7 separate regions of the Homo sapiens genome follow, and all the other regions are reported to be linked to region 1. The links are microRNA targets in miRTarBase. Many come from high-throughput screens and were not tested one by one. Region 1 holds a microRNA gene; each other region holds the end of a gene's coding sequence. Distances are between the middles of the regions.

Region 1 (4,215 bases):
AGATTGTCATGGAGATTAAATAAGAAAGTGCCTATACAGCACTTCTTTAGAACAGCACCAGGCACAAAAGAAGCATGCAAAATGTTAGCTGGTGTTATTTGTAACTTTTTTTTTTTTTTTGAGACAGGGTCTTTCTCTGTCACCCAGACTGGAGTGCAGTGGCACAATCATGGCTCACTGCAGCCTTGACCTCCTGAGCTCAAGTGATCCTCCTGCCTCAGCCTCCCAAGTAGCTGGAACTACAGGCTTGAGCCACCGTGCCTGGCCGTTTGTATCATTATTTACAGTGTTTAGTATTAGGCAGTGCTGCCCCTGGATTCTGTCCCAGGCAGAGCTGAGTAATAGCTGCCCCTTTAGATGAAGTGTGACCTCTTCCATTGTCCACAGCCCACAACCCCAGGGACCAAGGCTGAGGTCCTAAAAAAGCCAACACTGTGTAGGGGCCTGACTCCTGGCTGCTATGTGACTTTGGACAGTCACTCCCTCTGTCTGGGCCAGTGTCCTCACTTATAAACCAGAGGCACAGGGCCCTGAAAACATTATGCTAAGTGAAAGAAGCCAGACACGGAAGGCCACATAATGTCTAATTCCATTCCTACCAAATGCCCAGAATACGAAAATCCATGGAGACGAACAGTGAATTAGTGGTTGCAGAGGCTGACGGAATGGGGAGTGACATCTCATGGCCACAGGGTTTCTTGTGGGGTCACAAAAATGTTCTGGAGCGCCATAGTGGAACCGGTTGCACAACCTTATGAACACAGTCATGCGTTACTTAATGATGGGGATACGACCGGGCACAGTGGCTCATGCCTGTAATCCCAGCACTTTGGAAGGCCGAGGTGGGCGGATCACCTGAGGTCAGTAGTTCGAGATGAGCCTGGCCAACATAGCGAAACCCCATCTCTACTAAAAATACAAAAATTAGCTGGGTGTGGTGGCACGTGATTGTAATCCCAGCTGCTCAGGAAGCTGAGGCAGAAGAATTGTTTGAACCCGGGAGGCGGAGGTTGCAGTGAGCCGAGATCGTGCCACTGCACTCCAGCCTGGACGACAGAGTGAGACTCCATCTCAAAAAAAAAAAAAAAAAAAAGATGGGGATACATTCTGAGAAATGTGTCACCGGGCAATTTTGGTGGGCAAACTTACATGAACCTAGATGGTGTAGCCTACTGCACAACTAGGCCACATGGCATAGCCTATTGCTCCTACACTATAAACCTGTACAGCATGGTACTGTGCTGAATACTGTCAGCAATTGTAATGCAATGCTAAGTATGTGTGTATCTAAATATATCTGGATGGTTTCCCTGCAGGTAACAGCTGGCTCTGATGTCCTAAGGAGACCCCAGCGCCATGACAAACCCAGGGATCTCTGATTGCTCCCAGCCTGAGTCGCTTCATATCCTACATGGGAGGCTGAATCCACAATCCCTCCTGCAGACGTACCCTCTCCTCTCCCTTGTCCCTGCAGAGGCCAGGGCTGCAGGGGATGAGGCTCGCCCCTAGTACTGCATGACCCTGTCTACAGGTTTGGAGGCTCCTCAGCTCAGCCTCGGCCCCTGGGCTCTTGTCTTGCTAAGCCCAGAGACCCAGCTCCCACTGGGCTTGGTGGCTGCTTGAAGTGGATCATGCCTTGCACCTCCCCCTCCTCTCCAGAATCTTCTATGTGTGCCGAGACTCCCAGAACAGGAGACATTTGGCTACATCACCCAAGATGGTGCCCACTTTCCATTGCCATGGGTCTAAGAAAAGGTGAAGTTCCCTCCCCCAGCCCTTCCCTGCCTGCTGAGGGATAGGACATGTGTCCCCATTTGCAGTGGATGCAGGGAGGGCTGGAGAAATGCTCTGTGCTCTGAGTAAGGCATGTTCCCCTGTAAGTGTGCCCATGACAGCTTGTGTATGCATATGTGCATGTATGGATATGCATGTTTGTTGGCAGGGATCTGTGCACATTTGTAGGTCTGCCTTTCTACCCGTCTTGTGTTCTGGACTGTGCACATATCTGCCTTGACAGACTTATCAATGTTCACACACTGGCTACACCTGTACCTTGTCTATATGTGTGGCTGCGTGCGTGAGTCTGCTGGAGCTCAGCACTTGTGTGGCTGAGCTGTTTACACCTGTCTGAATATGAGGGGTGTGTTCACGTGTCCCCTGAACGCACACTAGTGCATGTGTCCCTTCTGTGTGTGTCAAGGCAGGCCGCACGGCCATGAGGACCATAGCCCAGGCCTTGGAAGTTTTCCACGAGCTTAGACTCCAGCACCCACTGCACATGGCAAATGGCACCAGTGACCTGCCGTGGAAGGCACAGATGCCAGAGGGCACCACTACTCCAGCAGGAGCAACACCAACAAGGCCAGCACCAGCCCCACCCATGGCCTCCAGAGATCCTGGAGCCTGGAGGGCCCAGACGAGCTGGCAGCTCCAGGCTCCAGGCTCCTCAAGGTCCCACAGACAGGCCAAAATCCAGACAGCGGGAAGGGACAGCACAAGCCGGAGCCTGGGGACCAGAGGCAGTTTGGGGGTGCTCCATGGGGCCACACCCCAAGCCTGCTCTACATATTCTTCTAGGGCTCCAGAAGTGGGGAAAACCACAGGTGGGGAAGGCTGCCCCACAGGTGTACAGGTACAGGTGTGAGGCTGACATAGGTGGGTGAAGGATCAGAATCAAGAAGAGGAGATACTTCCTGCCTGATGAGTCTCTAGCTGTCCCCTCCAGGGCGCAAAGCCCCAGCACCTCCTTCTCTCCTGTCTTTGGGGCACCCAGCCATGGCCCCAGCCCCTTGGGCTCCAGCAGCAGCAGCAGATACAGGAGGCTGAGGCTCAAGTGAGAGTGGCTAGAGGGCAAGTGAGCTGAGCAGGTGGAGGCCAGACCACCCTTTCCCATCCCAGCTGGCCCGGGCCACAGGTGCCACTCGATGAGGCCTCAGCTAAGCACCGAGACAGTTGCCCTCAGACAGCCCACGCCAGCCAGCTCCCTGCACCAACCGGAAGCTCCTGCGGCACCTGGCACCACCCGAGGCCCGCCTGGGAAAGAGAGGGCCTGAGAGCCAACTCAGCCTGGCACCCGGGAGGCGATGGTCTGGTGAGACTTGGGAAGCTGAAGGTCCTGCCCCAGGTGGAACTCAGAAAGATAAAGAAATGGCAGCTCAGAGATAGGAGGGGACTTGCATAGGCTGCCTGTCCAGGCAGCGGCCAAGCTCTTGTGACTGTAGAGTCCTTTATTACCCTTTCCCACTCCCAAGCCAAAATGCTGGTACCAGGACCCAACTGAGTCAGATCCATCTTCAGTTTCCCCTAGACACCCACCCAGTGGGCTCCAAGAGGCCAAATCCCGGGGACTGGACCCCTAGGACAAGTCGGTGACCCAGGGTTGCCTGCCCTTCTTTGCCCCAATACCAGGACTGCCCTGGGCCTATAACATGCTTTCCTGAATTCTGGATAGGTCTCCCTACCATAGCTCAGAGAGGGTTGCCCACTTGCCCAAGATCACACAGCCGGGGAGCTGGCACCGGACAACTGGCCCGTGGGTGTTCTCCTGTGTCACTGTCCTCGGCTGCCCTGGGCTGGCCCAGCTTCTGAGGGGAAGGGGCCCTCCACAGAGGTACTGTCTCCCCAGGCCACCTCTTGCTCCTGCCCTGGCTTCAGCTTCCCTGCCACCCACCAGCAGTGATCAACTAAAGCCACACTTTGTCAGACATGGAATGAGGCTCCAACCCTGACTCCTTGTCCCCAGCTGAGGCCACCAGCAGCCACCAGCACACCAGCCCCTCTGAAGATCTGATGGCGGCCCAGAGCCAGGAATCAACTGTCGTGACCCTCACATTGCCCCTCCCACCAACTGGCACCAAAGGACTGCAGACCCACAGGGCAGCACTGGGAGGCATCCCAGGATAGGGTGGGGCTGCCTCAGAGACCTGAGGACCAGCAGTGCTGAGGAGACTCTCATGCTCTTTCCCTCCTTGTCTCGATGAGCCCTGAGGCCCAAAGAGGGCACAGGTGCTGACATGTCCCAGAGAGGGCAAACAGTGGCAGGACAAGGAGCCTGCACAAAGAGCCAGAGCTCTGCCCTGGGGGCAGACAGAAGAGGCAGAGGCAGCCCCACCCCCACCCCAGTACTCCCCGTAAGAGGAAGCAGAGGCCACCTTCACAGACGGTCGCTGCAGGCAGGTTTAACCCAAGCTCATGGGATGGTCTGTCCTCACTCAG
Region 2 (4,215 bases), not on the chromosome of region 1:
GGGACCACAGGTGCATGGCACCACACCTGGCTAATTTTTGTATTTTTTTGTAGAGATGGGGTCTTGCTGTGTTGTCCAGGCTGGTCTTGAACTCCTGAGCTCAAGCAATCCTCCCACATCAACCTCCCAAAGTGCTGGATTTACAGGTGTGAGCCACTGTGCCTGGCCACACAGTTTTGTAGATTTTTCCTGAGAACAAATGTTGCAGTTGCTGATGTCTACATTTGATAACTGTTCTTTTCTGAAATGTTTTTTTCTTTTAAGGTTAAGAAAACGACTTCTGATTTGTTTTTGGAAGTAACAAGTGCCACCAGTCTGCAGATTTGCAAGGATGTCATGGATGCCCTCATTCTGGTGAGTGTGGGGTGGCTCCTCCTGAGAAACGCTTTTGAGCGTGAGTGGTGCTCTGCTCCTTGACTTCCCACCCGTCCTGCTTGCCTCTTTTTTGCTTACTGTGTTGGCAGACAGCAGCATGTCTTCCCTGGGTCACCTCTCATCTCCAGGTTAAAAAGGTATTTTTTATTTGCAGAAAATGGCAGAAATGAAAAAGTACACTTTAGAAAATAAAGAGGAAGGATCACTCTCAGATACTGAAGCCGATGCAGTCTCTGGACAACTTCCAGATCCCACAACGAATCCCAGTGCTGGAAAGGACGGGCCCTCCCTTCTGGTGGTGGAGCAGGTCCGGGTGGTGGATCTGGAAGGGAGCCTGAAGGTGGTGTACCCGTCCAAGGCCGACCTGGCCACTGCCCCTCCCCACGTGACTGTCGTGCGCTGACGCCAGGGCCGCCTGTCCGCGTTTGTTTGGCCGGTTTTGCGGAGGTTTCTATGCGGCAATGCTGAATTATCCGTTAGATTTTCACCCCAGTTTTTTTGTTGGTTTTTTTTTTTGAGATGGAGTCTCGCTCTGTCGCCAGGCTGGAGTGCAGTGGCGTGATCTCGAGTCACTGCAGCCTGTGTCTCCTGGGTTCAAGCGATTCTCCTGCCTCAGCCTCCCAAGTAGCTGGGACTACAGGTGTGTGCCACTAAGCTCAGCTAATTTTTGTATTTTTAGTAGAGACGGGGTTTCACCATTTTGACCAGGATGGTCTTGATCTCTTGACCTCATGATCTGTCCACCTCTGCCCCTCAAAGTGCTGGGATTACGTGATCCACCCGCCTCAGCCTCCCAAAGTGCTGGGATTACAGGCGTGAGCTGTGCCTGGCCCACCCCAGCATTTTTTAAGATGTATGTATTCGTTGTTCTGTTTTTCCAGATGATTCTGTCGTAAAGTGATGCTATGTTGTCGTTACAACATCAAAGTGATTTTACGGTTTTTGATGGGATTATTCAAGTGTCAGAATTAACTGTTCAAAATGTTCTGAATCATGTAGATACATGGCAGGTAACTGTTTATGGGAGAAAAGTACAGTGCTGTTACGTGGCACTGTACAGTCATGTGCCACGTAACAGCGTCTGGGTCAGTGACGGACACTTACCTGACAGCGGATCCACAATATTCTCGTGCAGTGTGTTTGGAATCCTGGTCTGGGCTCTCGTCGTTGGCCTTGTAGATCAAGTAGGGGAAGTGAGTGATGTTCAGTCATGCTGCTGGGACACTTGGTTTTCCAGATGAAAACACATAAATAAAACTACATGCACCATCGAGGCTTGTGTAAAGACTCTGTGATCACACAGCAGCGGCTAAGCACACGTTTCTCATGTGTCACTGAGCGACACGTGACTGTCACTGGTTCGGAGACCCGAAAACTTGGGAAGCCAACCGATGTGCGTTTCCTTGAACGGCACGGTCACTTTCTATGACGCAGCATCTTGTAAAACCATATCATGCCAGGATGCAGCTTGGCATGTGCAAGGGCGTTGGGTTCTCCAGCTGGCAGTGATCATAATCTTGGGGGGAAAAGTTTTAATGTGACCTTAGAATTGGCAGAATTGCGTCTCTTCATACTGCTGTTGGATTGCTTTGTGGGGGTGGAGATGTGGAGACCCCTTCAGGCAAGCAGCCTGTAGGCTGAAGGCAGTGGCAGCACCTCACCCTGGCTCAGCGGGGCCAAGCGGAGGAGAGCGGCATCGGTGGGGTTTCCATCGTGTGCACGCTGGTGCTGCAGTGACAGGCAGGTGGAGCCCCAGGAGTGGACCAGACGCCTCTGCTTGGGAAGCATCGGCAGTCCTCAGCCAGCCGAGGGACAGATGGTAGCAAAAGCTGGAGGATGCTTAGGTTTTTGAGCCAAAAATCTTCATTTATGCGCCAGAAAGGTGGGTCCTGGGCGCCTTCTGTTGTAGACGTTTCCGTTGTGAATGTCCAGGTCAGACCCCCACGTCCATGTGTCTTCGTGTATGTCCAGGCACCACATGTGCGTGCACACCACTCCCGGGAGTCAGTGTGCTTGGCTCATGAGGACACGGCCAGCCACCGCGATGATTTTACAGACCCCACTGCCTTACGATCTGGGTGCCATGTGAGAAGCAGACTCATCAGCTTTATCGAATGACACCATTTGTTCTCTGTTCAGTGTCTCGATTTCTGTGTCTGTAGAAATGACTGGTGATTTTGGGAAGCATCTGCAAGAGCCCCACAGCCCACACACCTTTAGTTGTCAACCTGAGAGGCCCGGGGCCCTGTGCAGTGGGCAGACTAACAGCTGGGTGGCTCTTCAGAGCCTTGCAGGACATGGGCCAGGCTGCCTTGAGACCTGGACCCACTTGTCTGGTCACCGCCAGGCCTTCCCGTCTCGCCCACTGTGGGAGGGAGGGGACTCCAGACAGGACGAGGCCCACACACTCAGTGCCAGCTGGACTGCCGTGGGTGTGTCAGATGACTGCCTTGCCTTGTGTCCTCCCAAAACCTGATTCCTGCTGCTCTGGGCAGTCAAGGCAGATGCCACAGTTGGCCAGGGGCCTGCCCTGCTGGAGGCTTGAGGCGGCACGGGGGCTTCCCCAGGCCAGGACTCTGCTGGAGTTCTGGGGCTGGGGACCCCAGACAGTTGCTCTGAGAGGTGATTTGGGGCTGCCATGGCAGAGGCTGCCCTTTCTCTGCATGGCCCGGCCCAGCCCGGGAAGGAGGAAGGGAGGAAGGGAGGGATGCTGGAGCTGCCATCTTGGCTCCCGGGGACTTGGTGTCCATGCTGTAACACATCTGTCACTGCGTGGGTGTGGATGAGGCTGCCACATGCTGTGCCCTTTCCTGATGCAGCTTGTGATGCGTGAGATGCTGGAAATGTATTTAACTCGCAGCACAGGTGTCTCTGATGTTTTCTTCACCCCACCCCACCCCCCGACTCACTAATAAAAACAGCTCCGCACCTGGCCCAGCAGATCCTTTCCCACCGGCACTGCCAGAGGTTGTTGCTCGAAGTGTCACAAAGCTCACTCTAGCCCAGTGGTGGCTTCTATGTGGGGAGGCTGAGGGCCTCCTGTCCCCACCCAGATCTTGCCAGCAGGGAGCAAGAGGCACCTGCCACTGTCATGGGGAAGCTGGTGCCCTTGACCAGGGGTCCTGGGAACTGGCCTCACCCTGCTGGGCCCCTGCCTGGAGCACAAGGTGGACCAGAGGTGTCGGGCTGCCTGGATACCCCAGGTGCACAGTCAGAGGAGCCCAGGCCCCAGACGCATCCACAGCAGATCCTCCTGTTCGTGAGTCTCTGGGAGGGTAGGCCAGGCGGCCACTCAGCAGGGTCCTGTCCCATCCTCTCCCCAACCCTCCCAGAGCTGTAAGGACACTGCTCAGCTCAGCCTAGGTCCATGACCCTGGGGGTACTGGGGCTGGAGCTGCTGTCTCCACCATGGTCACTTAGGGGACAAGTGGTGTGCCCGAGAGGCGGCTGTGGGTTACTTGAGTGCCTGGCCCAATGAGCACCCGTGGGTGTCTGCCTGTAGCCTCCCCTGCTGGGGCTGGCAGGGCTGCTGGTGGAGCCCCTGGCTGAAGATGCTGGGCCCCTGCCAGGGCGGACCCAGATGCAGCCAGACAGATCCAGGGCAGACCCGACATGCGCCTGTGCCATCTGATGCCAGCCCCTGACAGGTGGGAAGGAGCATTTGTGGGGGTGCGTGGGCATCACTGGCATGCGGGACCCGTGGCAGAAGCACCAGGGCCACTTCCCCTCTGACTGTAGAACTGGGACAGCTCCCATCCCCATCCTGTGCCCTCGCCTGTCTCCTGGGCCGCACCAGTTCTTGGGGAGGCCCAGCCCCAGGACCCCCAGGTCGGAGTGCTG
Region 3 (4,215 bases), not on the chromosome of region 1:
GGCTGCCAGACATTCTAATTCTTCAAGGAAAATTGGAAATCTGGATTTTCTTGTAAAACTCCTAATTTTCTTATTATTTCAGAACACTTCATTTAATATTTTTACTTTGTATTATTTTAAAGCTAATTAATTTAAAAATTGACAAATGAAAATTGTATATATTTATCACATACAATGTGATGTTTCTAAATATGGTTGCATGTGGAACAGCTAAATCAAGCTAATTAACATATGCATTACCTACTTTTTGTTTTGAAATAACTTCAGACTTACAGAGGATTTGTAAAAATAGTACAAAGAATTTTCACATCCTCTTTCTAGATCCAATGGGGACTTGAGCTCCCAAATGTCAACATTTAATTGTGCTTGCTTTATCATGCTCTTCCTTTGTTTCCATCTCTTTGCTTTTTCCTTAACATTTTGAGAATTAGATTTGAATTTTTAATATACATAACCGAAGACCCCTTTAGAAATGGCTGTCCTTGATTCTTTTTTTTCTTTTTTTTTTGAGATGGAGTCTTGCTCTGTCACCCAGGCTGGAGTGCAAAGGAGCAACCTCGGCTCACTGCTGCAACCTCTGCCTCCCAGGTTCAAGTGATTCTCCTGCCTCAGCCTCCTGAGTAGCTGGAATTACAGGCACACGCCACCACGCCCAGCTAATTTTTTTGGATTTTTAGTAGAGATGGGGTTTCATCATGTTGACTGGGCTGGTCTCGAACTCCTGAGCTCAGGCAATCAACCTGCCTCGGCCTCCTAGAGTGCTGGGATTACAGGCGTGAGCCACTGTGCCCAGCCCCTTGATCATCATTATGATGACAAATCCTGATGCTTGTGGGTTTATTTTTAGAAACAATATTTTCTTGAATAGGCAGGACTTGGTGGAGTTTGTTTTTCTTCAAACAGTGCTCCCAAATACGGATAGTCCCCGACTTACAATGTTTTGACTTTACGTCGGTGAGAAAACAATACACATTCAGTAGAATCCATACTTCTAGTACCCATAAAAGCACACTGTTTTCTACTGTCATTATGGTTTTCAATAAATTACATGAGCTATTCAACACTATTAGAAAATAGGCTTTGTGTTAGATGATTTTGCCCAGTTTTGGGTGAATGTAAGTGTTCTGAGCACGTGTAAGGTAGGCAAGACTAAGCTATGATGTTCAGTAGGTTAGGTATGTTACATGTACTTTTAACTTATATTTTCAACTTATGATGGGTTTATCAGGCTGTAACCTCATCCTAAATTGAGAGGCATCTTGTATGTGTTGTTAAATCTCCCTTTCCCATTTATTGATGACAAATTTAGAGGATTCCATTTATTCTAGTTCTTTGTGGTTGTTGAGAGTCCATCCAGTATAAAATCTTACCTCCCTTTCCTTTCCCCAGCATATACTTTACTGGAGAGACATGAAAAGGGGTGGGGTCTGGTTCTGGATCTCAGGCAAGGTGGGATGGGGCGGACAGAGATCTTCTAAGGTCACTGATCACAGTCAATGAGGGAGAAATCCTGATCTCCTCCTGGCTTGGTCTCCATTCTTCTGCTCCTCTGGATGCCTCCACTGATGCAGGGTGTGGTGGTCACCAGATAGTTGGTGATTAGCTTCACCTCAGCCCTGCCATTGCTGTGGAAACCCTCAAAGAGTGGCAGTTCCTTTGGGCCAGTGGCCCACAGTCTCAACCCTCTCACCAGGTTCTGCCTCCTCCCATCCAGCTTGGAAGCCCCCAGTGCAGCTTCTTGGCTTTCGATCCCTCTTCTAAATGCACTCATGAGAGCAATGGGAATCCTAAGTTCTCTTCCTTGCTCTTTAGTGGCCTCAGGAGCTTGGATGAGAGTGTCTTCTTGCATCTCTTCCACAGGCTACCATGAAAAACTTCTTGCTTCTAGAAATGTCAGACGATAAACAGGTACCCACCTTTTTGTTCACTTTGCCCTGTGGCAGAAGTTGCTACAGGGAGACAAACATTCATTTTGACCATCCTACTGCTAGGCATTTCCAGTCCTTGCAGTTAGGTGTGGTCACTGGGAGTGGGTTCTTATATAACTTGTTAGTATAGCTCATACAAACCTCCAAGCAATCTGTTCCATGCTCCTTCCCCCTTTCTGTAGTTGGAATGGTGATAAGATGACAGAATGATCTTGAAGCTAGATATTGAAGGTGGCAGGGCTGTTGGCATCCTGGAATCCTTAAACGACTCTGTGGAGAAGACAGACTATTGCCTCTTTCCCCCAAATCTGGAGCAAACCATCTTGACTTGTACATGTTTGTGCAATTATATCTTGGATTATTGTTTATAGTAGATTAGCCTTCCCTAATTAATATAATCTTGATGCCTAGGGACACGGCTTTCTCAAGAGCTGTCCTACTGTGCTCCAGTCTGGGCAGCTTCAGGTCAGTCTAGAGGGTGCATTCAGCTGGGGATGGGAGGTTGGTGGGGGAGATGCCTGTCTCCTCCTGGACTGGAACCTTCAATCTAGGAGTGATTTCCACAGCCCTTCACTTGACTTGAAGGGTAGAAGAAGCATCTCCCTCCCTTCTTCCATGGAGATCTTCAAGAAAAATCTCTTTGCTATGTGCACTGCTTTCCCCAGTGCTCATCAGAGCCAGTGACCCTGATGATTCCACTTTTCTCCTTCTCCACGGGGTAGCGAATGATAGTTCTGTGATTGATTGGGATTGGGCTGGCTTTTCTAGCTCTAAGGAAGTCCCAGGGTGGTGGGCAGGCTCCAGATGTCAGAAGTTCTCCATGGAATGTGGGGTATTTGGGGGGTCTATGATTCTAGCTGTGGGTCCTAGAGCCAAATCCAGGGCAATGAGAAAAGTCCCACTCAACACTGATGCATAGTAAAATGGCATTGGGCAGGCAGAATGAGGGATAAGGAGGCAACCAGTTTGGGACTTGAGGCTTAGACCCTGCAGATATGGGTGAGGGGCTGGGCATGAATCAAAGAACTTGCTGGAGCTGTGCTCTCTGGGAAGGCTGGGTCTGGAAGCTGTGTTTCGGGAGGAAGGGCCAGGGTGCCAATTGAAGCCTCATGGAGTGCTCTTCCAACCTTTTGGGCTCCTGGCCAGGTTTCATACCCCATCTCTTCTTAAGGAAAACACACACATACTCCAAGTATTACAGATGCTTTCAGTTTAATAGCTGTTTTAAATTTTTTTTTTTTTTTTTTTTTTTAGGTTTTAGGCTGAAGACGTAAAGCCTGCTGCTCCTGGGTATCATTTCTCAGCTTCTCCTTACAGCTATAGTACTGAGTCAAGGACGTCTTTAACGTCATGGACGGCTCCTAGGACAGCCACAGAAAAAAATGGGGTAAAGGGGTAGGAAGAAAAAAGGAAGGGAAAGAGAGCCAGGGAATTGGGGAAGGAGAGGTAGGGGAAGGGGAAGGGGAAGGGAGGCCTGGAGGTGCTTACACAGAAGTCAGAGGGATGGAGGTTAGATTCACAGGAGCCCCAAAGACCAACCTCTCTTCCCCACCTTGGCAGGGGCAGGGGGCAAGAGCAATAAAAAAAAAAGCAAGTTAGACCCCAGGAAGTATCAATATCAGACAAGAATGGCAATTTAAATCTGGATGAGGAATTGGAGACATTTGAAAGCACAAAGTGAGGGGTCTTCAATGGGGGGGCTGTGGCAGTTTCAGATCTCATGCAAGGGGTGGAGACTGAGGCTGGTCCTGAGGGAGGAGTGGGGACATATACTCACCTTTACCCACGCTTTCTAGATCTTCGACTGCATCTTTTCCTAGTTTTCCGAGTCCCCCCACAGCTTTTTTTGCTCCGTCTAGGCCTTTTTCTAGGGTGGATTCAGAAAAGAAGAGGTCATAGAAGCAGAAAAACTACTTCCTTTGTAGGAGAGCTCCCCCGCTTCCTAGGCACCATGGGCACCCCTAAGGTGAAGTGGTTTTGCTGAAGGAACCAACTTCTCTGTCATGGGAAGGTTGGTAGGCCAGTATTAGCTGCAAAACCTATGGCCCAGAAACCCTGTATGTAGAAGCAGGTGTGCACCCCAAGCCCTCCCTAGGAATATGGGTGTAGCTGTGTCCCTGTGCTTGTGCCTGTGAGGGCAGACTGGCCCCCAGATATCTTGCTGTTTCATGCATCAGAATTCTATACCAGGCATTGGGAAAGAGGCTTACCCAGAAGGCTGGATCTCTGCTTCCTTGGCTTTGGTGCCTGTCTGGCTAACCCTGGGTCTTCACCTGCATTTTCCTTT
Region 4 (4,215 bases), not on the chromosome of region 1:
GGCAGTGCTGACAGCCTGAGACAGGATGGGGACCAGGACCCGCTCCCCAGCATCTCCAGCTGGGACATCTGCACCAGTTCAAGGGCCTCAACAGGACCCTGAGATTGTCATTCCCATGTCTCAGTTTTTGGGAAAGATGTTCTTTTCAAGGAGAACTGCTGGGCTTCTGGGTCAAGGGACAGCTTCACTTTTTTCAGCTGTGGAATGGCTTGATGGCTGAGTCAGCCTTGGGAGCCCTGGGTAAGAGTTCGAGCTCAGGAGGAAGCCTTAGTCTCCCTAGCCTTCTTGTGAGCACAGATGGGGAATAGATGCAGAAAGTAGGGGCTTTCCCTGGGGTGCTGGCCCACTACCTGCCTCTTTCTCGGAGAACTGTATATGTCTTTGGAAGGAGACTCATGCCTTCACTTCTCCTCTGTTAATACCAACTTTTAGAAACAGGTTTGTGGTTAATTCAGACTAAAGTGTCAATGACTAATAGGCAGCAACTTTTTGCCCTCTTACTCCACAACAAAAGCTAAAATAAAGTGAGTGAGTATCAAACGGTGTAATTTGAGGCAGCAGCAAATGTGTAGGATGAGAGGGTGATGATTTCAGGCATCCAAAATCAGACCACTGAAGCCAGGTAACTTAGAAGCTTCAGACACAAAAATGGAAGGGAATTGGGCCAGGCACAGTAGCTCACACCTGTAATCCCAGCACTTTGGGAGGCCAAGATGGGAGGATCGCTTGAGCCCAGGAGTTTGAGACCAGCCTGGGTAACATAGCAAAACCCCAGCTCCGTAAAAAATAAATTAGCAATTAGCTGGGCATGGTGGCCTGTGCCTGTATTCCTAGCTACTCAGGAGGCTGAGGTGGGAGGATCGCTTGAGCACAAGAATTCAAGGCTATAATGAGCTGTGATAGCACCACTGCACTCCAGCTTGGGTGACAGAGCAAGACTCGGTCTCAAACAAAAGAAAAGAAAACAAAACAAAACGAAAACCAGAAAGGGAACTGTAGTGGCCTGTGGCCCTGGGAACCAGCCCTGCTGGGGAACTCTCACCTCTGTTAATAGGGCCCGGGCTGCCTCCCCGACCTGTTGTCCCTGAGAGATGGAGGGGATGCTGAAGGAAGAGAGAAGAGATGAAGAGGCAGGACCCATCCCTCCCCTGATCTGATCTCCATCTTAGCAGGGCCATCAGCCCCAGAGCAAGAGGCAATGTGCCAGCCATCCTGCTGAATCAGCCTGCCTGGCACTGGCCGTGGCACTGGCCGTGGCACTGTGAGGCTCTCCTAGCTGAGCAGGGGCCGCCTGTGGCAGCAGAAATTGAGCCAAGCAGCTTCATAGTGGATGGAACTGGAAGCAGTCTTCTCCGCTTTCCTCCCCTCCTCCCCAACCCAACAAACAGGCTGGGTAGACAGCCCTGTAAGAAATGCATGTCGACATTTTTATTGATCAGAAAGTAGGTGACTGGTCACCCAGAACATTCTCAGAGCCAACACCAGGGCCCCTCGATGGCCCAGCAGCAACTCCAGAGCTTCCCACACTCAGTGTGGCCCCGACCCCCAGCCCTATCTCTGCAATGCTCACTCCCTTCCTACCCACAGCTCTTTCTCAGGGGAGTCCCAACCCCAGCTCACACCCCCGGCCCCTTCAGAGCCTCCTTCTCCTTCTTGACTCAGTGCAGGCTGGGGTATGATCCTGAGCAGAGGACGCTCAGGTTAAAGCAGGAGCTTGCAAATAGAGTTCTGTAGAACCTTCCAGAAGGGGATTTTCAGGTTCCCGCTCACCCACTTTAACCATAGCAGTTCCAGGCTAGCTTTTGTTGGTTAAAACAGTGACAGTAGTTGGCTCAGTGTGAGGTCTCAGCAGGGGCCACTGAAAACCTAGATGGACCGAAGCCCTAGGGCCAACTGCCCTACAATGGCCTCACTGGCAGTGGGGGAAGAGGGTAGGCTGGCTTCCTCCTGCCCGTGCCCTGCAGCCCAGCTGAACCAGCCTGCCTGTGCATGTCTCAGTGACCTCACTCCGGGCTATTAACCTCCCGTGGCAGCTGTCTTCCCTACTGTGGGAGGGGACATGGGCCTGCACAGCGGTTTATTCAGGGATGAAACCTAAGCTATGTGCAGGGTCCCTGGGTTGCTGAGAGAGACCGGGCAAGCCTTCCCCTCCCACTGCCTGCAGAATGAAGGGGAATAATTAAAGACTATTAAAGGAAATTAAACTCCACCTTCAGAGATAACCTAATTTCCTCCCAACACACACACCCTCTTCTAACATCTGGCCCCCTACCCCTGCTACATCTGGAAGCTCCAGCTCCCTTCAAATCCAGAGTCCAAAATCCCAGCCCAGGAACCACGGACACCTCTAGGCCCCCAAATCCGTCGTCACACACTCTGCTACCCTGACCTCATCCCCTCCTGCCCCGTCATCCTTTGTGTGTCCTCAGGCCTCACGTTGGCTTCTCAGCATTTCTGAGCTGGGAGAAGCCAGCTCTGGTAATTAAAGTCTTTCCAGAAAGGTAGCAATCACTCTTCTGAGGTCGGAGTCAGCTATTAAAATTTTGTTGTCTTTTTTTCTATTTAAATTGGCCCTTGGACACTGGGTTTTTCTGTCCTTGTTTGTCCACACACAGCTGAAGGGTGCTGGATGGGGGTGGAGGTAAGTGTCACAGCCTTGGGTCCCCTTTGGGAGAAGAAACCTAGAGCGGGGAGAGGATGTTTCTGATCCCCTTTCCTAGTTTTCCAAGAGCAGAGGCAGCCTGGTGCCTGGCACACCAGACCCCAGGTCCCCCAGGCCCCGTTCCAGGTGCAGATGCAAAGTCATTATCCTTGTTCCCCAGGGAGGCATCAGAATGAAGGGGGAGCAATTCTAAGTGGGGCCCATCTCCCTAGGCCTCCCACAGCCATTCTGGAACATGCTAACATTGTTGATCTAGAGCCTCTGGGGGCTGTGGGTGGGAAAGAGGCCAGGGAAGAATGAGGTGCATTCTTCTCGGGTTGGGTAGGCCATTCCAGAGGCGAGGGTAGGTGGTATCCATCCCTGTGTCCTGGTGCCCATGGTGGCCAGGATGTTTGCAAAGTGCCAAGACTCCCCCAAGAGAATGGAGGCCAGGTGGTTGTTCCTTGCCTTCACCCTGGCAGGGTTCCCTAGCAAGAGGGCAGAGAGGATGGCGGGTGGGGGCAGGCTCAGGGCACCATGTTCCACCATTTGAAGGGAAAGGGCTTCCTGCGCACGTTGGTGCCACAGTGGATCTCCCCCTGCAGCTCGTGGTAGGACAAGTAGTCATCAATGAAGATGCAGTGCAGGCCCAGAGGCTCCAGCAGGGACTGCACCTTCTCCTCCAGGCAGCAGCGGCCATTGATGATGGGCCCGTAGGGCTTGGGGATGCCCAGGTACTTGCCTAAGACCACCATGTTAACCTGCAAAAGAGAAAAGGCAAGAGGGAGGCTGTCTGGCTATAAGTGCTGTGCTTCTGGCACCCCTTCCTTGCCAGAATGAGACAGGCCCTGGGGAATGGGTTGGCCATAGCCACAGCCTAGAAAGGGCTCTAGGACTGGAGTTTGCTCAAGAGTTAGGGCCTATGAAAGCAGAGGAGAAAAAGATTCAGGGTTGGAAATGAGGTTGAATAACAGCCAGGACTACCAGGAATTTTGTACATTAAAAAACAAAAACAAAAAACAAAAAAAAACTTCTCCCACTCTTTCTTTCATCTATGAGAAAATTGTCATATTATAGCAACTTTGTTAGAACAAGAGATTTTCGTGTCATCTGCCAGAAACTTGTACAACAAATATACACACCTACAAGGTCTGTGGTGTGGATGTCTTCCAAAGTGTGGTGTGCTTTTGCTGTGCACAGCTTGCTTAACTGTCTTTGGCAGCCCTGATCATTGTTAGCATTTATTGAGCATCTTTTATGTGCCAGATATATCATCACTAAATGCCACAGCCTCCCTCTGAAGCTGTGGCTCAGACAGGTTAAGTCACATAATCATACAGCCAGAGAATGATGAGACTGACATTTGGACTTGGATCTGGCTGGTGCCAAAATCCATGCTTTTTATCTGGCCACCTGTGGGACTGAGGAGTTGGGGGAAAGGGCTGAAAAAGCCTTTGGGGACACTTGAGTTTAACTCTGGGGGCACCTCTCCTTCCCTTGGTTGCGGACCTGGCTTGGGGCCCTAATCTGGGGATGGGAATTCTCCCCCATGCTGTGCTATGGGGGTTTCTTAG
Region 5 (3,000 bases), not on the chromosome of region 1:
GGAGCTACACCTCCATGGGCTTGATTGCCTTGGCAGTCCTGGCGTGCTTGCTGTTCCTCCTCATTGTGGGCTTTACCTCCCGGTTTAAGAGGCAAACGTAAGTCTCCCCTTTCCCTTTCCTCAACCTCTCTCCCCTTCATTCCTGGCTTCCCTTTTCCTTAATGGTCTTTCCCTTTCTATTCTCTCACAGTTCCTATCAGGGCGTCCTGTGACTCGCCTTGCCACATCTGTGTCTCTGGAACCCAGGACCTCTGGACCTCAGGTTCCTAAGACTTCAGTCCTGGTCTGCTCAGGAATTGAAGATGTAAGGAATTGAAGATAGGAGAGATACCTTGAAAAAGTAGAGAACAGTCATGAGGCAGCTTTCATCACACCCTTTTAACATTTATCTAAAAGAATTTAAATTCTTTTTCAAAAATTACACTACAAGTTTATAAGCCCAAATGGCTCTGTGAAATCAGAAGTGCAAAGGTGTGCAAACTTGTATCTGAAGACCTACCAGGGACAAGCAGGTAAGAGCTGATGTGAGTGTGTGTGATGGGATCTGTAAGGAACTGGAACACACATGTCCTATCCAAAGGAATCAGCTGCAGCTGCTTGTTGTCAAGTATAAAGTCAGGACCTGGCTTGGCTTTAACCGTTTTTCAAGAAAACTGGAAATCTGGATTTTCAGCGAACATGCCTGATTTTAAAAGGTTGACTCAAGTTTTTACAAAATACTATGTGGGACACCTCAAATACATACCTACTGACTGATGACAAACCCAGGAGTTTGTGTGTCTTTTATAAAAAGTTTGCCCTGGATGTCATATTGGCAGTTGGAGGACACAGTTTCTATTGTAAATTTGGATTTACGACTGAAGAAGGACATTTTCTCTTTAAAAGAAAGTTAGGTTATAAGAAACAGAGGCGTCTCACATTTTTACTTGGTGTAATTAATAAACGAAGATAAATCATAGTGTATGTGTATTATGTTGAAAAAAACTACTCTGAGTAAGGATATTTCTCTCAAATGGTCATCACTTTTTTTCCTTGGAGGAAGATTGTCATGAAGGCATCCCTTCCTTCCCAAAACGACAACGGCAACAACAACAGTCTCCTTTACTTACAGCTATTAAAAGAGACAATGTAGGGAAAGGGCCAACACCACTTGGGCAAGCATGAGCTGCAGCGATGATGGTGATGGTAGCCCAGCCATGCTGTGTTCTTATCTTAGAGAGGACAGAGCAGGAAACTTACAGGGGTAGCAGACCTTTCTGATGCCAAAGAAATAAGGAGGCCAAAATCATGTTTGCCTAGCTGGGAGGTAAATCTCTTGGCAGTCAGGGTCCCTGAACACCCAGAAAAAATAAGTGAGACTTAACGGTTGGAGAGTGTTTGCTTGAGAAAAGTAACATTTCACACTCTCTATACTAGACTTGCACATATGAATTTAGGATGTGCGTGAAGATTCTGCTAGCTTCAACATATCCCAAAGCACTTGGATATGCCTATAATCCAAGTGCTTTGGGAGGCTGAGATAGGAGGATTGTTTAAGGCCAGGCATTTGAAATCAGCCTGGGCAACATAGTGAGACCCTGTCTCTACAAAAAATTAAAAAACTAGCCACCCATGGTGGTGAGCGCCTGTAGTCCTAGCTACTCTGGAGGCTGAGGTGGGAGGATCCCTTGAGCCCATGAATTCCAGGTTAGTGTGAGCTGTGATTGTGTCACTACAGTGTAAGGATGACAGAGGGAGACCCTGTCTTAAAAAAAAATTATGCTAGCTTTTAAATCAATGGTTCCCAAATTGTAGTAACCTGACCAACAGCCTCAGCAGGACCTGGGAACTTGTTATAAATGCAAATTGTTTTGGGCCTCATCCTATACCCGCTGAATGAGAAACTCTGAGTCTGGAAGCAGGCTCAATAGTCAAGCCCCCTGGTGATTCTGATGCTTAGCTAAAGTTAGAGAACCACTGTTCTTAGACATTGTGCAATGTTATACAACAACTTCCTCAAAGTGCTAAGTGAAAAGGACATTGGCCTGGCGTTAGTCAGGGAAGGCGTCCTGGAGGGAGGGGAATTTGAAGCAGAGCTTTGAAAAACAAAGGCAGTGAGGTGAACCAGCAAGTGCACTGGCTGAGGGGACTGGAGTTCTAGCCTCTGAACCAGTTTCCTCCTGTGCCAAAGGAGGATAATAATTATCTATTATTGATTATCTCCTAGACTTGTGGAGTTCAAGTGTGTAATGCCTTAAAAGATGTGGAGGCTGTTGCTGTGTTTGGTACCACATTGCCCACCCTCACGTGGCGCTCTTCAGCTTAGGTTCCTCTAGCAGTGTCAAGTTTGTGAACCAACCCCACTGGCCTTCTGCATTCTGAGGGCACGTGTGTTAAAGTCTCTACTGATGTCCTTTTGGAAATGCCTCTGCATGAATTTATGGTAGCTCTGACTCATCTTTAAACAATTTTAATTTATTTAGAAAATAAAGGCTTATCTCTCCAGGAAATTTTTTCTTCCTTCAAATAAATACTCAGTTCCAAATATCTCAGAGAATCCTGAGAATTCATTTTAGAACATGTTAATACTCTTTTTATGAGTATCATGTTTCTTACTGAGTGTTGTGCTGATTGTGAATTTATTACCACTCTGCTCCAAATTCATTCTTCATAATAGGCTCAGTGACAATGAACAGAGTTCCTTTAAAAAGTCAGCACATTGTTAAGCTTTTTCAGTAAAGGGCCCCGGAGGGACACAGCAGGAGGAAGGGGCTCTCCTGCAGCTTCCAGCTACTGCGTGGTGGGTCAATGAAGTGGGTGGGAAGACATCCTGTGTGGCGCTGCCTGTGGTCCCTGCCCCTCCAAGTACCCCATTCTATCTGCAGACCCTCGCATCTCCTGTGCTTAATCCACCCACTGCCTGGAGGTTTCCACTGAGCAGTACTTCCTCTGCAAGCCCCTGCCTCAAGCCAGGAGGGTTTCTTCCAGCTTATCTAGCTACTTCAGGCCAGCTTTGGCCTG
Region 6 (4,215 bases), 26 Mb from region 1:
GCTGAGACACAAGATCACTTGAACCTAGGAGTTCGAGATTGTAGTGAGCCGAGATCATGCCACTGCACTCCAGACTGGGAGACAGAGCAAGACGTTGTCTCAAAAAAAAAAAAAGTCTGGGAGCTCCAAGTTTACACTCCAGAAGCCTTTTAATTATTTTATCTTACTATTTGTGCTTGTAGACACAGATCTTGCCATATTGCCATGCCCAGCCCTCCAGAAGCCTCTTAAAAGCACATTGAAGGCTGGGCACAGTGGCTCACACCTGTAATCCCTACACTTTAGGAGGCCAGGGTGGGAGAATCACTTGAACTTGGGAGTTCGAGATCAGCCTGGGCAACAGGGCAAGAGTCTGTCTCTACAAAAACTATTTAAAATTAGGCAGGCTAATTTTTTAGTAGTGGTCCCAGCTCCTCGGGAGGCTGAGGTGGGAGGATCGCTTGAGCCTGGAAGATGGAGACTGCAGTGAGCCGAGATCATGCAACTGCACTACAGCCTGGGAGACAGAGTGAGACTCTCTCTCAAAAATAATAATAATAAAATAAATTAAATATAAAAGCGTATTGAAACAGTAAAGAACTCCTACAACTCAACAACAATAAAACAAACAATTTGATTAAGAAATGGGCAATGGACTTGAATAGACATTTATTTAAGAAGATAAATAAATGGCCAACAAGTACATGAAAAAATGCTCAACACCACTAATCGATTAATTAGGGAAATACAAATCAAAACCAAAACACAGCCAGGCAGGTGAGCCTGTAGTCTCAGCTACTCCAGAGGCTGAGGCAGGAGGATCATTTGTGCCCAGGAGTTGCAGACCATCCTGGGCAACATAGTGAGATCCCATCTCTAAAAACAAAATAAAATAAAAATAAATTATTTTTTAAAACATCCATTATGATGGCTACTAGTAAAAATGAAACAGAAAATAACAAATGTTATTGAGGTTGTGGAGAAATTGGAACCCTTGATGGCGGGAATGTAAAATGGTGCAGCCACTATAGAAAACAGCATAGCAGGTCCTCAAAAACCTAAAAATAGAAAGACCACAGGATCCAGCTATTCCACTTCTAGGCATATATCTAAAAAAATTGAAAGCAGAGCCTTGAAGACATATTTGAACACCCATATTAATAGCAGCATTGTTCATAATAGCCAAATGGTGGAAGCAAGCCGAGTGTCCATCAGCAGATGACTGGATAAACAGAATGCGGCAAATCCACACCACACATTCAGACGTAAGGAAGGATGCTCTGCATGCTACAACATGGATGAACCTCGGTGATATGGTGCTAAGTGAATAAACCTGTCACAAAAACTATGTGATTCTACTTATATAAGGTATCTTGAATAGTCAAACTCACAAAGAGAGTAGAATGGGGGTTGCCAGGGGCCGGAGGGATGGGGAAATGGGAGTTCTTGTTTCATGGGTACAGAGTTTCGGTTTTGCAAGATGAAAAAGTTCTAGAGGTAGGTTGCACAATCAGTATGGTTACTCCTACTGGACTGTATACACTTAAAAATGGTTAGGATGGTAAAGTCTGTTATGTATTTTACCACAATTTAAAAAAAAAGTTTTTTTTGAGACAGGGTCTCACCATGTCACTGAGGCTGGAGTGTAGTGGCGTGACCACAGCTCACTGCAGCCTCAACCTCCCAGGCTCAAGCAATCCTCCCACCTCAGCCTCCCCAGTAGCTGGCATCAGAGGTGTGCGCCACCATGCCTGGCTAATTTTTTTGTAGAGATGATGTTTCGGCCATGTTACCCAGGCTGGCCTCAAACTCCTAGGCTCAAGCGATTTTCCCACCTCAGCCTCCCAAAGTGTTGGGATTACAGGCGTGAACCGCCGCACCCAGCCACATAAAAATCCACACGATTCCTTCCTGTGTTGGCCTGCTCCAGATCTGGCTCAGCTTCTCGAAACTCAGAAAGTTGCAGCTTGCAAGGATTTAGAGATCTAGTTGAATTTTACAGATTAAAATACTAGAGGCCACAACGGGCCAAGTGACTTGGGAAAGGTCTCCCGAGTTTAATAGTAGAGACAAGATTAGTTAGTCTGGCTCCTGACTCCCAGACTGTGGCTCTATCCCGCACTCCAGTTCCAGTGGGGACACCCATTCCCACGCAGGGAGGGAAAAGGCACCCTATCCATTTGGGCCTCCTTCCCATACACCAGGGGTTGGCGGTAGGTGAGCATGTGAGGAAATGCACCTGTGGTAAAAGCTCCTGAACAAACCTGGAGGGAGATGAGAAGAAACAAACAGGTGAGCGCTTAAATGCTAACAGGATTGGCCGGGTTCGGTGGCTCACGCCTGTGATCCCAGCACTTTAGGAGGCCAAGGTGGGCAGATCACCTGAGGTCAGGAGTTCAAGACTAGCCTGGCCAACATGAGGCCAAACCTTGTCTCTACTAAAAATACAAAAATTAGCAGGGCGTGGTGGCAGATGCCTGTAATCCCAGCTACTCGGGAGGCTGAAGCAAGAGAATCACTTGAACCCGGGTGGCAGAGGCTGCAGTGAGCCGAGATTGCACCACTGCACTCCAACATGGGGAATAGAGTGAGACTCTGTCTCAAAAAAAAAAAAAAAATAGCTAACAGGATAAAGCCTGAGTATTTTTTTTTTCCCATTGAGTTACTTTGTAGCTTTCCCCAACCTCGAGTCATAAAGGAGTCTGGAATTGTCCCTTCAAGGTGACACATTCTGTTACATTGTGAATGATGGGCACCGTTTTCTGCCTCCAATAATATCACATGATGAGGCATACATAGAAATGATTTTTTATTTACTTTGATGATTAGGGAAAGATACCAACATAGCTTTCATCAAAGCTAACAAATAACTTTACTGGCAGTTAACTAATTTTATTAGACTAAAGACATGTCTGTTTAAACTGAAACAACTGGCCCTTTGCTTTGGCTGGGACCTTGGGAATCACGGCCAAGGTGCTGATCAGAAAAGAGTCACCATTACATCAACCTCCTCCCCAGCACACAGCACAGAGATGCCACGAAGGCCCCATAGGTCCCTAGAAGAGCAGCTGGGGCTCCACCTACCGAGTCCCAGTGGCTTATTTTGAAAAGATTTGCTTTCCACAGGTAAGGTGTCGCCCGAGTACATTTCTTGAGACTGCCATTGGCTCATCCTGCATATGAGGTAGTTCTCTTTGCATTTTGCAGATGCTCTCACTTGCCCAGGGGGTGGATGTCACGAATCCGAAACCTCTGGCTTCACATTCCTACTGGGAATGCCCCCCCAGCCCGCAGTCACAAGTCAGTCTCCAATCCTGCTGCAGACTCTTTAGCTCTTCAAATCCAAACAGATGTTTTCTTCACCCACAGGTTTAGGTTTTAACTGGCTGCTCAGTGTTAAAAAGGAATATCTCAAGCCCCCTGCCATGCTGAAAGGAGAAAAAAAAGTGAAAATAAATGACTGGGAATTTCACAGGGGCTCCAGCAGCAGTTGCTGGCGTTTTTATCAATACACCTGCTTCATGCGGAGGGAATTATTCCAATATCTGTGTTTCTCCTCAAGTTTGTGGATTGCTTGATGAGAATTTCCCCTTATTTACAAGCCTTTGGAGGCAGAAAAAGAGTCATCAAATCTAATGCAGAACCTCAGAGAGAAAATAAGCACTTGGTTTCTACTGAATAAACTACATACCCTTAGCCTTAAATAGTATCCCACTGCTGAGACCCCAAATGCCTTTCAAAGCTGGCTTAGTCCACACCCCCTGCATGCCGAGCCTAGTGGGCACAAAGGTTAACACCCTCCACTTTATAGGAGGAGGGCAGAGAACGCAGGGGCCTGCTGTGAGGAAGACAGGTGAGTTAAATTCCGATCCCAGCCCCGCAAACTGCCATCACACGTGTCCCCATGGATCTGCATGAGGATGAACCCAGTGATGAAGTAAAATTATCTTAGAAATTAGAATGTCAAAACGCCTCCTGGCTTAACGTGAAAGACTTCTCCAGGCTCTTTTGCTTATTACATATTAATCAGAGTGTTTAAGGTTCTTGTCTTCCCAAAGCGAGTCCATTAAAAATTCCCACTCACCAAATATTTAACCCTACAAAGTTTAACAAAGAGAAAATGTAGTCTCCACCGATTAATATCCCAATGTAGGCAACGGATACATTCTGCAGAAAAAGAGAGAGGATTCGTCATTTTAAAAGTAAACTGTTTAGGGGAAAATATAAATAGTAAAA
Region 7 (4,207 bases), not on the chromosome of region 1:
GCCACGGCTGCAGAGCCTGGGCTCAGCCCCAGGGAGGGCAGGGAGAGCAAGGGGCAAGGTCCCCTTACCTTGTGGGCTTGGGAAACACGACTCGTGGTTCTCAAATTTAGCACCTTACAGACAGTTGAGGGAGACCTGGGAGATCAAGTCGGCACTGGGGAAGCAGGCAGCGGTCCCAGAGCCACCCTGTGGTCCTGATAGCTCCTGGGTGGGGTGACGACATCCTTCTCCTCAGGTCTTCTGGGTGGGGCCCCTGATGGGAGCCCTCCTGGCCTCACTGATCTACAACTTCGTCCTGTTCCCCGACACCAAGACCCTGGCGCAGCGGCTGGCTATCCTCACAGGCACCGTAGAGGTGGGGACAGGGGCAGGGGCAGGGGCGGAGCCCCTGAAGAAGGAATCCCAGCCGGGTTCGGGAGCCGTGGAGATGGAGAGTGTGTGAAACAGCCTACGCCTGGCCGCGCCCTTGGGCTTCCTGCCTTGCAGGACCTGCCTGGAGGTTCTCCCTGGGGGTGGCGGGAGGGGGAGGCTTGACCTTTTGTCCTGACCAGGTGGGCTGGAGGGGACAAGCCCTATCCCTGGCATTACGTTTCTAGGTAGAATCTGGGAGTGAATTTGTCCCATTCCCTCTCTGTAGGGCTTCCCCACCTCTCGGTGGGACAGAGCAGAGGAAGGCAGGGGATTTAGGATCGCCCTCCCATCCTCTCACCCACTGGACCCCGTAGGAGTCCTGACCCCAGATGCCCAAGTCTTGGGGGAGAAAGGAATGGGAGCCCAGACAGCCACTCTGCTTAGACATGGGAGCTATAGGGACCTCAGGGAGCCCCAGCTTCTTACCCACCCAGGAAACCCTTGGTCCAGAGAGGACAGGCTTTCTGGAGGAATCAGGCCCTGGGACAGCCTCTGAGCTCCTGGGGGTGTTTCTCTGACCTTGGGTGTGGTTTTGGGGGCTATATTTCCTCCTTCAGACTGGGGGCTTCCTGAGGACAGAGACTGCTCTACCAATAGATCTTTGTTTGTTTTGAGACAGAATCTTGATCTGTTACCCAGGCTGGAGTGCAGTGGCATGATCTCGGCTCACTGCAACCTCTACCTCCTGGGTTCAAGGGATTCTCCTGCCTCAGCCTCCCAAGTAGCTGGGATTACAGGCGCCTGCCACCACGCCCAGCTAATTTTTTGTATTTTTAGTAGAGATGGGGTTTCATCATATTGGTCAGGGTGGTCTCAAACTCCTGACCTGAGGCGATCTGCCCACCTCGGCCTCCCAAAGTGCTGGGATTACAGGCGTGAGCCACCGTGCCCGGCCTCTCCCAATAGGTCTTTATTCCTCAATCCTCCAAATGCTCTGGAGAGGCCCCCACCCTTGAGAAGAACTGACACAGAGAAGAACATTTTCTCAGGCTCGTAGAGAGGTGGGATAGAGGAAGGGAGGTTTGAGCCAGACAGGCCTTTCCCAGGGAAGCCTCCTCCCAGGTGCTTGCCCCAGCTCCCACCCCACAGCCCACTCTCAGGCAGGAACAATCCTCAGAGGGGAAGTGCCCATCTAGCCATTGACTCATGACCTGGGTCAAAGAAGCCGTCTCCAGGCTCTCTGTCAGCATTACAGGATCCCCAGAAAGCTGTTGAATAAGCCCTAAGGGTGGTAGGAACCCAGGAGGGACCCAGGAAACTAAGATTTGAGATTCAGTGCCTCTGAAAGACTACCAAAATCTAAGTTGGTTTAATAGTTAAAAGCTGCTGTAGATTTATTCTGCCCACAACTTGGGGGTCCTTTCTGGATCTCGGCTTCTCCAGCTGTAAAATGGACACACAATCCTCCTCCAGGGACTGCTGTGAAATCAAGAAATCGGAAAATACTTTCAGAAGTTAAAATGCTAGAAAAACAACCCCAATAAATGATGATTATTGTTGCTGTTACTGTAATTATTGGGTATGAAGACAATTGCTGTTGGTAATGAGAGGGAGGAGGGGAAAAGAGAGAGAGAAAGATGATTGAGAGGGAGGGAAGAGAGACTGGGTTTTCTCTCACATCATTGGATCTACTTAACCAGGGACCCTGTGTGCTCTTCTCCTGGGTCTGCTGACCTTGAGGCTTTGTGGGTGTGAGGGGCTGTGGGAGGGCCCTGGAATGAAGAGGCGAACCAATAAAATCAGTTCTTCTCATCTCTATGACGCCCATCACCATGGTACCCTAAGATGCAGCAGCCAAATTCATATAAAAGATGGGTCCTGGCGGCCAGGCACGGTGGCTCACGCCTGTAATCCCAGCACTTTGGGAGGCTGAGGCGGGCAGATCACGAGGTCAGGAGATCGAGACCATCCTGGCCAACATGGTGAAACCCTGTCCCTACTAAAATATAAAAAATTAGCCGGGCGTGGTGGCGCGTGATTGTAGTCCCAGCTACTTGGGAGGCTGAGGCAGGGGAATCACTTGAACCCGGAAGGTAGAGGTTTCAGTGAGCCAAGATCACGCCACTGCACTCCAGCCTGGTGACAGAGCAAGACTCTGTCTCAAAAAAAAAAACAAAAAAAACAAAACAAAAGATGGGTCCTGGCCTGGTGCAGTGGCTCCCACCTGTAATCCTAACACTTTGGGAGGCCAAAGTGGGAGGATCGCTTGAGGCCAGGAGTTCGAGACCAGCCTGGACAACATGGCAAAACCCTGCCTCTACAAAAAATTAAAAACTTAGCCAGGCATGACGGCTCAAACCTGTAATCACCAACATGTTGGGTGGCCCAAGCAGGAGGATTGCTTGAGGCCAGGAGTTTGAGACCATCCTGGGCAGCATAGTGAAACTTCATCTCTATTATTTAAAATGAAAAATTAATTAAATTAAAATACAAACAAAAGATAGATCCTTTTTAGTGATGTCTCCTGAGGGACTGGGGATGGGGGAAAGGCTGCCCAAGTCTTCCAAGGGCAGTGTGGCAGGCCCAGCCTGTGACCAGTGCAGTAGCTGAATCCCTGGTGCTCATAGCCCCAGTAGCTGTGCTCAGCGTTCTGTAATATCAGCGCAGATACTACTCACATCTCTCCAAGCTGGGCCCCACTCATCCATCTTCACAATCTCTCAGAGTCCAAGGCTGCCTGTGTCCTTTTATGAGCAGGGAGAGCTGGGTGTCTGTATGTATGCATGTATGAGAGCGTATGTGTAAACAGAGGACATGATTGACTTGCTCAAGGTCACCTGGTTCAGGAGCACGAACACTTAAGGTCTCCCCAGCTCCCAGTTGAGAATTTTCCAAAATAGAGCTCCTGGGGGGTTCATACAAGCTGCAGCCCCAGGAAGGAAGGAAACAGGAACTAGAGGATTGAAGGGGATGGGGGCGTGGAGCTCCTATGGTAGGCTCTTAAGCTCCTTGACAAATGATCACTGCTTTTTGTCCCCAGAGCCAAGCACACACTGGGTGCTCAATATAAGTTTGATGAATGAATAAGGCTGGGCAGTTGGGGAGGATGGGAGGCAGTAATAGATCAAGAGGAGAAAATTTCAGGAGTTACAGCTCCAAATAAGCCAGTATGACAGCAGCTGAGAAGCCTATGCTTCCAGGCAGGGGCTGGGGAGAGGGTGCATCGCCAGATATTTGCTGTTCCACCCACAATTTCAGAGCAGGCTTCACAATGTCTGTCCCAGGAACATACAGGCCAAAATATGAGGGGTTGCCTGAAGAGAAAGCTGAGGGGCTATTTTCACTAACAGTTCTTCAAAGCAGTTCTGTCAGGACAGAGCAGGAGGAAATAAGTTTCCTGAGAAGTGGGGAATTAGGTTAGCCTCTGAAGAGCATCCAAGGTTAGACGTGGAAATAAGTAACCAAAGGTTCGCTTCCCCTCCTCTGGAGCCCTTTAATAGGACAGCAGGCCATCTGTTTGGATGAGGGAAGGGCTGGCCTTTGGAGAGCTGAATCTCAGTAGCTCCAGCTGGGGGAAGCAGGCTTCATTGGCATAGCCCCTGGGCCTGGGTGGGGGCAGGGGACATGGGGAGGACAGAGACCCAACCAGGCCAGCCCTTGGTGTGCATTCCCTTCCTCCTGTTTGTCAGGGAAGTTTTTAATTAATGGTGTATAATCTGATCTGACCCTTCTCCCTGCTGAGCACTGCCTTCAATCAGTGGAGCCATCTGCAATTGCAATTCATAATTCTCCCCAAAGGGAGGGGGACTCGGGCCGGGTGCCTTGGTGATTAATACAATTAGCCTTTTATGTTGAT

What was found. The annotated mature microRNA hsa-miR-4478 reads GAGGCUGAGCUGAGGAG and lies in region 1 at 1,541-1,557, opposite strand. An mRNA with a match to its seed (bases 2 to 7 or 8) in the 3' UTR can be bound and repressed. Matches are read on the target gene's strand: a 7mer-m8 pairs with bases 2 to 8, a 7mer-A1 pairs with bases 2 to 7 and ends in A, and an 8mer does both.
Region 2: miRTarBase lists LRRC47 as a target of hsa-miR-4478. Seed matches in the 3' UTR shown: 7mer-m8 at 988-994 and 7mer-m8 at 1,161-1,167.
Region 3: miRTarBase lists DCD as a target of hsa-miR-4478. Seed matches in the 3' UTR shown: 8mer at 3,187-3,194.
Region 4: miRTarBase lists PADI1 as a target of hsa-miR-4478. Seed matches in the 3' UTR shown: 7mer-A1 at 1,933-1,939.
Region 5: the mRNA of CD1D is a reported target of hsa-miR-4478. Seed matches in the 3' UTR shown: 7mer-m8 at 1,553-1,559.
Region 6: the mRNA of SLC35D2 is a reported target of hsa-miR-4478. The part of its 3' UTR that is shown has no 7-base or 8-base seed match.
Region 7: miRTarBase lists AQP6 as a target of hsa-miR-4478. Seed matches in the 3' UTR shown: 7mer-A1 at 445-451 and 7mer-m8 at 1,121-1,127.

Annotation. Positions count from the first base shown.
Region 1 is chr9:122,118,607-122,122,821 of GRCh38, forward strand. MIR4478 (microRNA 4478) reads right to left here and starts at 1,561; the gene lies at 1,476-1,561.
Region 2 is chr1:3,777,651-3,781,865 of GRCh38, reverse strand. LRRC47 (leucine rich repeat containing 47) reads left to right here. Exons shown (of 7, transcript NM_020710.3): 6 at 265-354; 7 at 530-3,307. The coding sequence ends at 778. Among named protein-coding and RNA genes, the nearest start is that of SMIM1, 7.0 kb to the right of the region's middle.
Region 3 is chr12:54,641,468-54,645,682 of GRCh38, forward strand. It overlaps DCD (dermcidin), which reads right to left. Exons shown (of 5, transcript NM_053283.4): 3 at 4,139-4,215; 4 at 3,706-3,795; 5 at 3,122-3,289. The coding sequence ends at 3,246. Among named protein-coding and RNA genes, the nearest start is that of DCD, 4.8 kb to the right of the region's middle.
Region 4 is chr1:17,243,197-17,247,411 of GRCh38, reverse strand. It overlaps PADI1 (peptidyl arginine deiminase 1), which reads right to left. Exons shown (of 16, transcript NM_013358.3): 16 at 1,405-3,402. The coding sequence ends at 3,169. Among named protein-coding and RNA genes, the nearest start is that of PADI3, 3.8 kb to the left of the region's middle.
Region 5 is chr1:158,183,939-158,186,938 of GRCh38, forward strand. It overlaps CD1D (CD1d molecule), which reads left to right. Exons shown (of 6, transcript NM_001371762.2): 5 at 1-97; 6 at 191-2,489. The coding sequence ends at 212. Among named protein-coding and RNA genes, the nearest start is that of CD1D, 4.5 kb to the left of the region's middle. RefSeq lists an enhancer at 1,751-2,264.
Region 6 is chr9:96,317,935-96,322,149 of GRCh38, forward strand. It overlaps SLC35D2 (solute carrier family 35 member D2), which reads right to left. Exons shown (of 12, transcript NM_007001.3): 11 at 4,064-4,146; 12 at 2,776-3,407. The coding sequence ends at 3,308. SLC35D2-HSD17B3 (SLC35D2-HSD17B3 readthrough) reads right to left here. Exons shown (of 26, transcript NR_182427.1): 11 at 4,064-4,146; 12 at 3,064-3,407. Among named protein-coding and RNA genes, the nearest start is that of HSD17B3, 18 kb to the left of the region's middle.
Region 7 is chr12:49,975,230-49,979,436 of GRCh38, forward strand. AQP6 (aquaporin 6) reads left to right here. Exons shown (of 4, transcript NM_001652.4): 4 at 236-1,910. The coding sequence ends at 442. LOC105369764 (a long non-coding RNA gene) reads right to left here and starts at 276. Exons shown (of 3, transcript XR_001749143.2): 1 at 69-276.